2 separate regions of the Homo sapiens genome follow, and region 2 is reported to be linked to region 1. Evidence: microRNA targets listed by miRTarBase, many of them from high-throughput screens and not tested one by one. Region 1 holds a microRNA gene; the other region holds the end of a gene's coding sequence.

Region 1 (4,000 bases):
GGTGGGGTACACAAGACTTTCAGGGGGCTGGCAAAGCTGCAGGAACTGTGCAGCTTAGGTGAACCCTGGATTCTGCAAGCCCCAGTGGAGTTTTCTCAGCTTCTGGAACCACAGGCCAGAGCTGCCGGGGCAATGGGGCTCCCAGCTTTGGTAAGGGCTGTTGGCATTAAGTGGCACCCGGTGGCTGGAGGGGTCTCCCAGGGAGGACGGAGCCTGCCCCACACTCTCCCACAGTTTCCTGGAGTGCTAGAATTGGGGTTCTCCCACGCAGGCTCAGAAAGGCACCAGGAGTTCCTCCTCTTGCTCAAAGGACACACTCCCTCCTCCCAGGTCCTCCAAGTGGCCAAAACACTCAGTGGCCTGGAGGGGCAGGAGAGGCAACAGGACTCCTCCAGGAGGGCCCGAGTCACTGGGGAGCCAGGGTGTCCCCGGACCCACCTTTCGGCCGGCAGATAGTCATCGGGGTCGGGCTGCTGGACAGGGGTGAGAAGAGGGGCCGCAGCGTCCCCGAGAAGGGGATCTCGGGAAAGATGAATAGCAGTGACCCATCGGTGGCACTGTAGAAAGAGAGATGTCCAGCCTCGTAGTCCAGAAAGATCCCCACGCGCCTGGGTGGGTCCCGGAGTGGAGCCAAGGCCCGTTCCGAGGAATTGTAATAGCTCCCCAGGAAGACCAGGATCCAGAAGCCGTTGCCCGCGGACAGCTCGCCCTTCTCCTTCCTGTTCACGTTCTCCCTGCACACCCCCAGGGCCCAGCTGGTGCGGTCCCCAACCTCCACCTCCCAGTAGTGGCGGCCTGAGGTGAAGCGCTCCTGGCCCAGCACGCAGGGGCCGGGGTCAAAGCGCTCTGGGCTGTCCGGCAGGGCCTGCCGTAGGTCCCCCCGCTGCACGCTCCGCCTGTCTTCAGACAGGATCAGCTCAGGGTTGGCGGTGTCCGGGTCCAAGGTCACGTCCCCTGCAGAGAGAGGCCCAAGGTCACCCAGGCACAGCCACAGGCAAGCTGGGGCCATCTGCCCATGTCCTGGGCATGTAGGTACAATCCTCCCAGTCGGACGGCCTGGCTCTCTGCCCTGGGCCTGTAGCCTCACAACCTCCTGGAGTAACTAACTGTCTCCAAGTGGACATCCTCTCCCCACTTAGCTACGTCCAGTTGCAACTTACAATGTCCTACAAATTGGTCCATGTTTTGCCTTCAGATATCAAGAGGGAATCTTGGTTGCTTTTTTTTTTTTTTTTAAAGAGGCAGGGTCTTGCTCTGTGGCCCCAGGCTGCAGTGCAGTGGTGCGATCATGGCTCACTGCAGCCTTGATCTCCTGGGCTCAAATGATCCTCCCGCCTCAGATCCTCCCAAGCTGCTGGGATTACAGGCGTGTGCCACCATGGCTGGCTCATTTTTTTGTTTTTTATTTGTAGAGATGGGAGTCTTGCTATGTTTCCCGGGTTGGTCTTGAACTGATGGCCTCAAGCAATCCTCCCGCCTGAGCCTCTCAAAGTGCTGGGATTACAGAGGTGAGCCAATGCATCCAGTCTGTTTTTCCTTTCAATCTCCAAATGAAGGATGTGAATTAGGGCAGCTGTCCCAACCCTGACCACTCCGATTTCAGATCTATCCACCTCTGGAGGCCTGCACACAGTTCCTACACAACAGGCTCCTGACCTGCTAGCAAGAGCTGAGGATAGTACTTCCTTTGGGTGACTGTGATACAAGACTCAGATTTGGGTTTTGTGCCCAGTTCCTGGCGCAGAGCTCACAGAACCCTGGGAATTTCCTGACTGATAGAAGCATCTTGTGCTATCATAAGATGCCCCTTTCCATCACACCTGAGTTGATGCCACTGCAGTGGCTGAGGTGGGGACCTGAGAGCCCAGCATAAGGCCAGCCACCAGAAAGACCAATCCTGTCAGTAGAGGGCGGGAACACTCAGCCCCAGCCTCTGACCTCAGGAAGGGGAAAGGGGTCTGAGGTTGAGCCCCATCACCAATGACCAATGATTTAATCAATCATAACCATGTAATGGAACCTCCACAAAGACACCTAAACAGCTCTTGGGGCTCAGGGAGTTTCCAGGTTGGTGAGCACACTGAGGTGCTGGGAAGGTGCACCCAGGGAGGGTGGGAAAGCTCTGAGCCCTTCCCCAGGCTTTGCCCATGTGTCTCTTCCATTTGGCTCTTCCTGAGTGGTATCCTTCACAATAAACCAATGACAGTAAGTAAAGTGCTCTTCTGAGTTCCATGGGCTGTGCTAGCGAATGCTCACATCTGCAGAGGCGCTGAGGGAACAGAAGTATGGGCAGCCCCTGGAAGTTGTGACTGGCATCTGAAGTGGGGGCAGTCTTATGGGACTGAGCCCTTAATCTGTGGGGTCTGTACTAACTCCTGTAGTGTCAGCACTGGCAATTCTGTTCAATGCTGAATGGAATCCTTGGATACCCAATTCGTTTCCAGAAGTTGAAGAATTGTTTGGTGTGAAAATACCCACACAACTGATGTCAGAAGTATGAGCAGAGGACGTTTTCCCAACAACCCACCACCATGACACTGTGAGTTTGGAGCTGGCAGTGGCAGGGCACAGAACACGTGGCTGGCTGCCCAGGTCCTTGGCAGGTCCCCTCCTGGAGTCATCTCCCCACCTGGGGCCTCCACACCTACCTCGAAACCTCCGCAGTGTCTCTACCAGTCCCGGGACCCTGCACACGGTCCTCAGCTCCATAGGCACAACTTCTGGGGGCTGCAGCTTCACATCCTGGACCCTAGAGGGGACAACCCAGGTGTTGTCGCCATGGCCAACAGCTGGGTCCCACCCCACTCCCTCCTGCCCCCCCTCCAGGAGAGGCTGGGTTCGTACCTGCGCAGGGCGTCCTTGATGTCCTATGTGGGGAGGAGAAACAGCACACTCGGTGTCAGTGACCATCGCTTGCTCCTGGAGTCCCCTCCCCGCCCCTGGAGCCTCGCCCCGTCCCCCTCTCCTACATTTGAGCGTCAGGCAGCAAAAACACACACAGGGGGCCATAAACCACCCGCAGCAAGGCTCAGACACAGGAATGCTGGACAGAGGCTCTGACATGTGTGCCAGGAGGCATCACCAATGGGGTGCAGCCCAGCCCTGCGGACCAAGGCCCACTTCTGCCTGACACTTGGATGTAGGGCATCTGGCTGTTGGCTCACTCACCCAGAGCCCCAAGTGGGCGCCTCTGGGTGCCAAGGACAGGACAGGCACACATCCCAGCCTTCAGCATAGGGGCACCTCCACCCCAGCTGGAGCCCAACCCTGTGGTTGCACTGCTTCCTCTCCCAGCTCCACCTGCCCTGCAGGCTCCCTGCTCAGCCCCACTCTTGGGCGTGCGTCCTTCCTGTGTCACTGCCTGATACGTGATAGCATCTGACTCCATGTTAGGGCCCGAATTGTGTCCATCCCGCCAAATCCGTATGTTGAAGCCAGAAACTTCAGGACTTCAGAACTTGACTATTAGAAAAAAGGGCTTTTAAAGAGGAAATCATAGTAAAATGAGGCCATTAGGGTGGGCTGCAATCCAAAATAACTTGAGTCTCATAAGAAGGGGCGACTAGGACACAGACACCCACAGAGGGGAGACCCTGTGAGGATACAGGGAAGAAAAGGCATCTACAGGCCCAAGAGATAGGCCTCAGGGGGAACCAGCTTTGACCTCAGTCTTCCAGTGTGCAGGACTGGGAGACAATCAGTCTCTGCTGGGGAAGCCTCCTGGCAGGTGGTACTAAATGTGGCAGCCCGAGCTGGCGTGATACACCCAGGTATTGGAACATCAGCTCTTAGGAGACACGGTCTTGTATCTCTTAGAGCAGTCTTCAGTGCACTGCAAGGATTTAACCCACACTGTCAAATAGACGATCCCACACCATGTTCATTCTAACACACGTGGTGCCAGCTACCAGGCCAGGATGCAGAGGTCAGTAAGACATAATCCCAGACAAGGGTTTCCCTACATGTAGGAGAAATGGCAAAGGAAGATTTCCACACATAC
Region 2 (4,201 bases), not on the chromosome of region 1:
CGAGGCGGGCGGACCACGAGGTCAGGAGATGGAGATCATCCTGGCTAACATGGTGAAACCCTGTCTCCACTAAAAAATACAACAAAAATTAGCCGGGCGTGGTGGTGTGTGCCTGTAGTCCCAGCTACTGGGGGCGCTGAGGCAGGAGAATGGCGTGAACCCGGGAGGCGGAGCTTGTAGTGAGCAGAGATCGCGCCACTGCATTCCAGCCTGGGCGACAGAGCGAGATTCTGTCTCAAAAAAAAAAAAAAAAAAAAAAAAAAAATTTTAAGATTTTCTGCACAACTCTTTGGGAGCTGAAAATAAAAACTAAACCACACGTTTTTTATACTGCGTTAAAATTAAATGGGCAGGTTTTGTTCCATCTGAAAAGGGAGTAATTTCATTGCTGAACATCCCTTTATGGACACAAACTGTAAAGGCAGGAAAGTTCTGAAAGAAACATCTATTTACTGTGCCCACATTCCCTCTCTTGTGGTTCTATGGAATAATCTTTGCTTCTTTCCCATTTGGTTTATTTACTTATTTGGGCACAAATGTTTTTTAGGCCTTTCAGAAGTAAGTGGCCAGGAAGTGAAGGGGCTTTAAACAATGGCTTAATGTTTTTTTAAATTCAGCTTATTCTAGGGAATATCTTAGTAGTTTAAAGGAACTCTTGCTTTTGAATAGAGGGCAAAAACATATCATCAGAAAGCTCTCAATGTCCTTGAAACAACCCACAAAAGCAATCTGGTTATGCTTAATGAATTTTAGTTTCAAAGTGATTGAAACAAATATTAAAATTTTACTTCTTCCCACTCTCCTTCCATCTTTCCCATCACCAACATCTAAAATTAGGAAACAGACAATGAAAAAACTGGGCTGAAAATTATTTTTTTCTCCAATAATCTTTCATGTTGCCTGGGACCTAGCAATTAAAAAAAAAACCTGCGCATGCAATGATGTTTGACCTGATACTCAGGTGGGGTGGGAAGGAAGTGAGACGAAGCTGGAGAATGATGGAACTATGACTCTTATTGGTTCCACGATGTCAAAGAGTCTGAATTATAGGAAAACGTCACTCCAACTTGATACTTACAGTACCCTGGTACTAAATATTTAGCCCCAGTCTCAAATTATCCAATTTCCTATAAATTTACTTCATCATCAGCTTTTATGATAAGAGATTAAAGTTATTTCCATAAGTAATCATATTAACCTGTTCTTGGTATGCTGTGTCATCTGCAGGGAGGGATAAAATACCTTGCCAATTACATCTCAGATATTCTGCTATAGAACTACTTACTTTTACTTATTAGGAGAACTCAGATCTTACCTTTAAACATTGGAAACTGCTAGTGTCAATCCTCAACTTCAGATGATACCTTTCTTTTTACAGGACTATCTTCCTTGATTCAATTTGTTACGTGACATGAAACATACAGATAGAGACCTCTTTAATTTTACAGTAAATCGTGTGATTAAGGTGCTGTTCTATTGCTATGAGTAAGTAGCTTCTAACTTTACTAAGCTTTTTTCAACACTTACCTGTGACTATGATACATATCAATTCATTAGAGTGAAGACCTCATATAGCCTTTTGTTTGCATTCGTGTGTGTGTGTGTGTGTGTGTGTGTGTGTGTGTATGTGTGTGTATGAAGAACTAGAAAAAAGAAACCCTGAAAGCAGGAAATAGCTCAAGCATGAAATACTTGTTACTATATAGGGCAGTCCATTATAAAATCGGAAACCATTCAGAAGACACAAGGAATAATATGATTGTAAAAAATTTTCACTCTAATCAGGTAACCCAAAATACTACATTTCTCTTCTTTTAACGTTTCCATCTTTACTTCTTGGGTAATACACCTATTTAAAACTTAACTAAACAACAGTGTGTTTCCAAACAGAAAATATGTGCTGATATGACAATATCCCCAAATGGAAATGACACTAAAATTATTTGTAGAAAATTAATATTAATTGAAAATAAATCCCTAAGACTAATAAGTGAAGTCAGCATATTCTTAAGTATATATATATACAGAGCCTGTCTTTTAGGTTTTCAAAACAAGGATGTTTTCATTATAGTACGCTGGAATTTCTGATGACTGCACAAGGTAAGATTCTAATGATAAGTGCCATTAGAACAGCGTGTGAAATAAACGATTTGAATCTGCCAGAAGGATTAGTTCAGTTCAGTTGGGTCCTCTGGATAATAACTATGAGGCTAATTGCATAATTAGAGAAATAATAGATTGGATGGATTTTACATTACTTTTCTGTCATAGTTTGAGATCATTACTTTATCATTAGTTCAAAGTCAAGGATGGCAGGATGGTCATGAAAGCAAAGTTAAAAACAATGAAAAAAAATTAATGCTTTTGAAAATCAACTATCATTTTAATTACAATCTTAAACACTTTTGTTTAAGGGAATCCAATTTTCCTCTTCCAAGGGTCTTCCAAACATGGAATATGTAGGTTTTCATCATAATCTCAATGTTGTTTATCCAAATGTATCACGTTATATAAATATGTAGAGGTTTCCAGATGTCAAGGGCAGGGTATTAGGTTCAAGTGTGGCTGGCTCTAACCTCTCCACTGAACTCCTAGAGTGAGATTTAAGTTTTATTTAATCTAACTTTACTAATTCAACTTAGTCGTGTAAGAAGGATATGAAGAATATGAATTATTGTACTTCACACTGCTACTTTCATGTACAGTATAGTAGAATAATACTGACAACTATAGACAAGAAGTTAAAATTTGTCTCAGGAAAATTCTTTCAAGAATTTTTAAACAATTTTGACATTAGCCTACTGATAGCTGAAAGAATTTCAAGTGACCCGTGATACATGTGGTGGCCAAAACTTTAAATGTATGGTAAAATATATTTCCTTGGTTAACATTATTAGCTATTTCCCTCCCCCTTTATATGGTACAAAGGCAAACTTTCGCATGTCTAGTCTAGGATATAACAAACTATGAGTTAGTGGAAGGAATGAAGTCGTACTAGGTTTGTGGTTGCTTTTGGATGTTACCGTTTAATTTGCTTCTATTCCTTAAGAGTAATGAGAATTTTAACATATGGGTGGATTTGAGGTTTTGAATAGTAGTTGATGGCAGAGAAAGTTCTTGAAGAACAAATAGCATGGGCAAGTGTTATTTTAAATTCTTTGTGACACAAATAAACACCCCTATGTAGTTTATCTCTTTGTGAGCCGATATGCCCTCATTTCTTTTACTATGATGATATTTTTATCTTTAAAGCACAGTCCTTTATCCCATTAGCCTGTGAAATGTACAGTTAGGGCAGTTGGCTGACCTGACATGGAGTGTAGTAAAACACCAGGACAGCGGAAGCGGGCACGCTGCCCTGAGAACAAGTGGAAATACTGTTCCCTGTCCTCCCCTCCGGCACCTGCCTGTTGGGCTGACTTGGTTAACTGGATGCACTAAAAAATAAAAATTTGCCCCTTGGAAGCTCATAAAAGTGTACTAGAAAAAAGTCTCTAACATTGGATCCACACGGACTGCAGCCATTGGCTTTTGGAACGGGTAGAACAGAGAAGCCTTCACGGAGTAGTGGATAAATATAAAGAAATAGCCACTTCACATATTTCAGTGTCGTATTGGAAAATGAAAAAGGCAACAGATTAGGAGTCTTTGTCACTGTCCACTCCTCCATACATATCTGCAAGCTTTTTGAATCGAGGTCCCCAGTCACTAAGGTAATCATAGTCTTGATCTGCATCCGTGGTCACTGACTCCAGCGAGCTCAGGGAATCCGCCACGGAGCCAGTGCCTTCATAGGCGTAAGTGGCCAAGGAGTCGTATGGCGGGGCAGTGGGGTCCGTGTCATTTTCCTTTAACCTTTGGTTAATGAAATCTCTGACATCGGTGTTGTCGCGAGCTGTTGGAGTCCGTCGGGGTAGGAAAAGGGCTTCGGGCACAATGTCCCTTCGTAATTTGTTGTCCTCTATGGCTTCAGGATTCCTCAGGGTGCCGATATCAAAAGCCTGGGTGTCCTCCTCTCCACCACCTTCGTCGTTGTAACTGACAATGTTATCTCTGATGTCCTCTTTGGAAATGATCAAAGGCTCTTTTTTTCGCTGCCGCCTCAGAGCTGCAAACAGCACCACTGTCACTGGAAGCAGAAAACAAAACAGAAAGGGAAGGAAAAGTTAATTTGCTGCCCAATTAATGTCAGGAAGAAACA

Evidence for each region. Region 1 holds the annotated microRNA hsa-miR-6742-5p (AGUGGGGUGGGACCCAGCUGUU, at 2,785-2,806, opposite strand). A microRNA usually pairs through its seed, bases 2 to 8, with sites in the 3' UTR of a target mRNA and lowers its output. Matches are read on the target gene's strand: a 7mer-m8 pairs with bases 2 to 8, a 7mer-A1 pairs with bases 2 to 7 and ends in A, and an 8mer does both.
Region 2: miRTarBase lists CDH6 as a target of hsa-miR-6742-5p. Seed matches in the 3' UTR shown: 7mer-m8 at 962-968.

What each region holds. Positions count from the first base shown.
Region 1 is chr1:228,394,299-228,398,298 of GRCh38, forward strand. MIR6742 (microRNA 6742) reads right to left here and starts at 2,811; the gene lies at 2,750-2,811. It overlaps TRIM11 (tripartite motif containing 11), which reads right to left. Exons shown (of 6, transcript NM_145214.3): 4 at 2,845-2,867; 5 at 2,649-2,749; 6 at 1-954. The coding sequence ends at 407. It overlaps TRIM11-AS1 (TRIM11 antisense RNA 1), which reads left to right. Exons shown (of 3, transcript NR_199157.1): 1 at 1-150; 2 at 1,413-1,508; 3 at 2,445-2,669.
Region 2 is chr5:31,322,746-31,326,946 of GRCh38, reverse strand. It overlaps CDH6 (cadherin 6), which reads right to left. Exons shown (of 12, transcript NM_004932.4): 12 at 1-4,129. The coding sequence ends at 3,639. Among named protein-coding and RNA genes, the nearest start is that of CDH6, 130 kb to the right of the region's middle.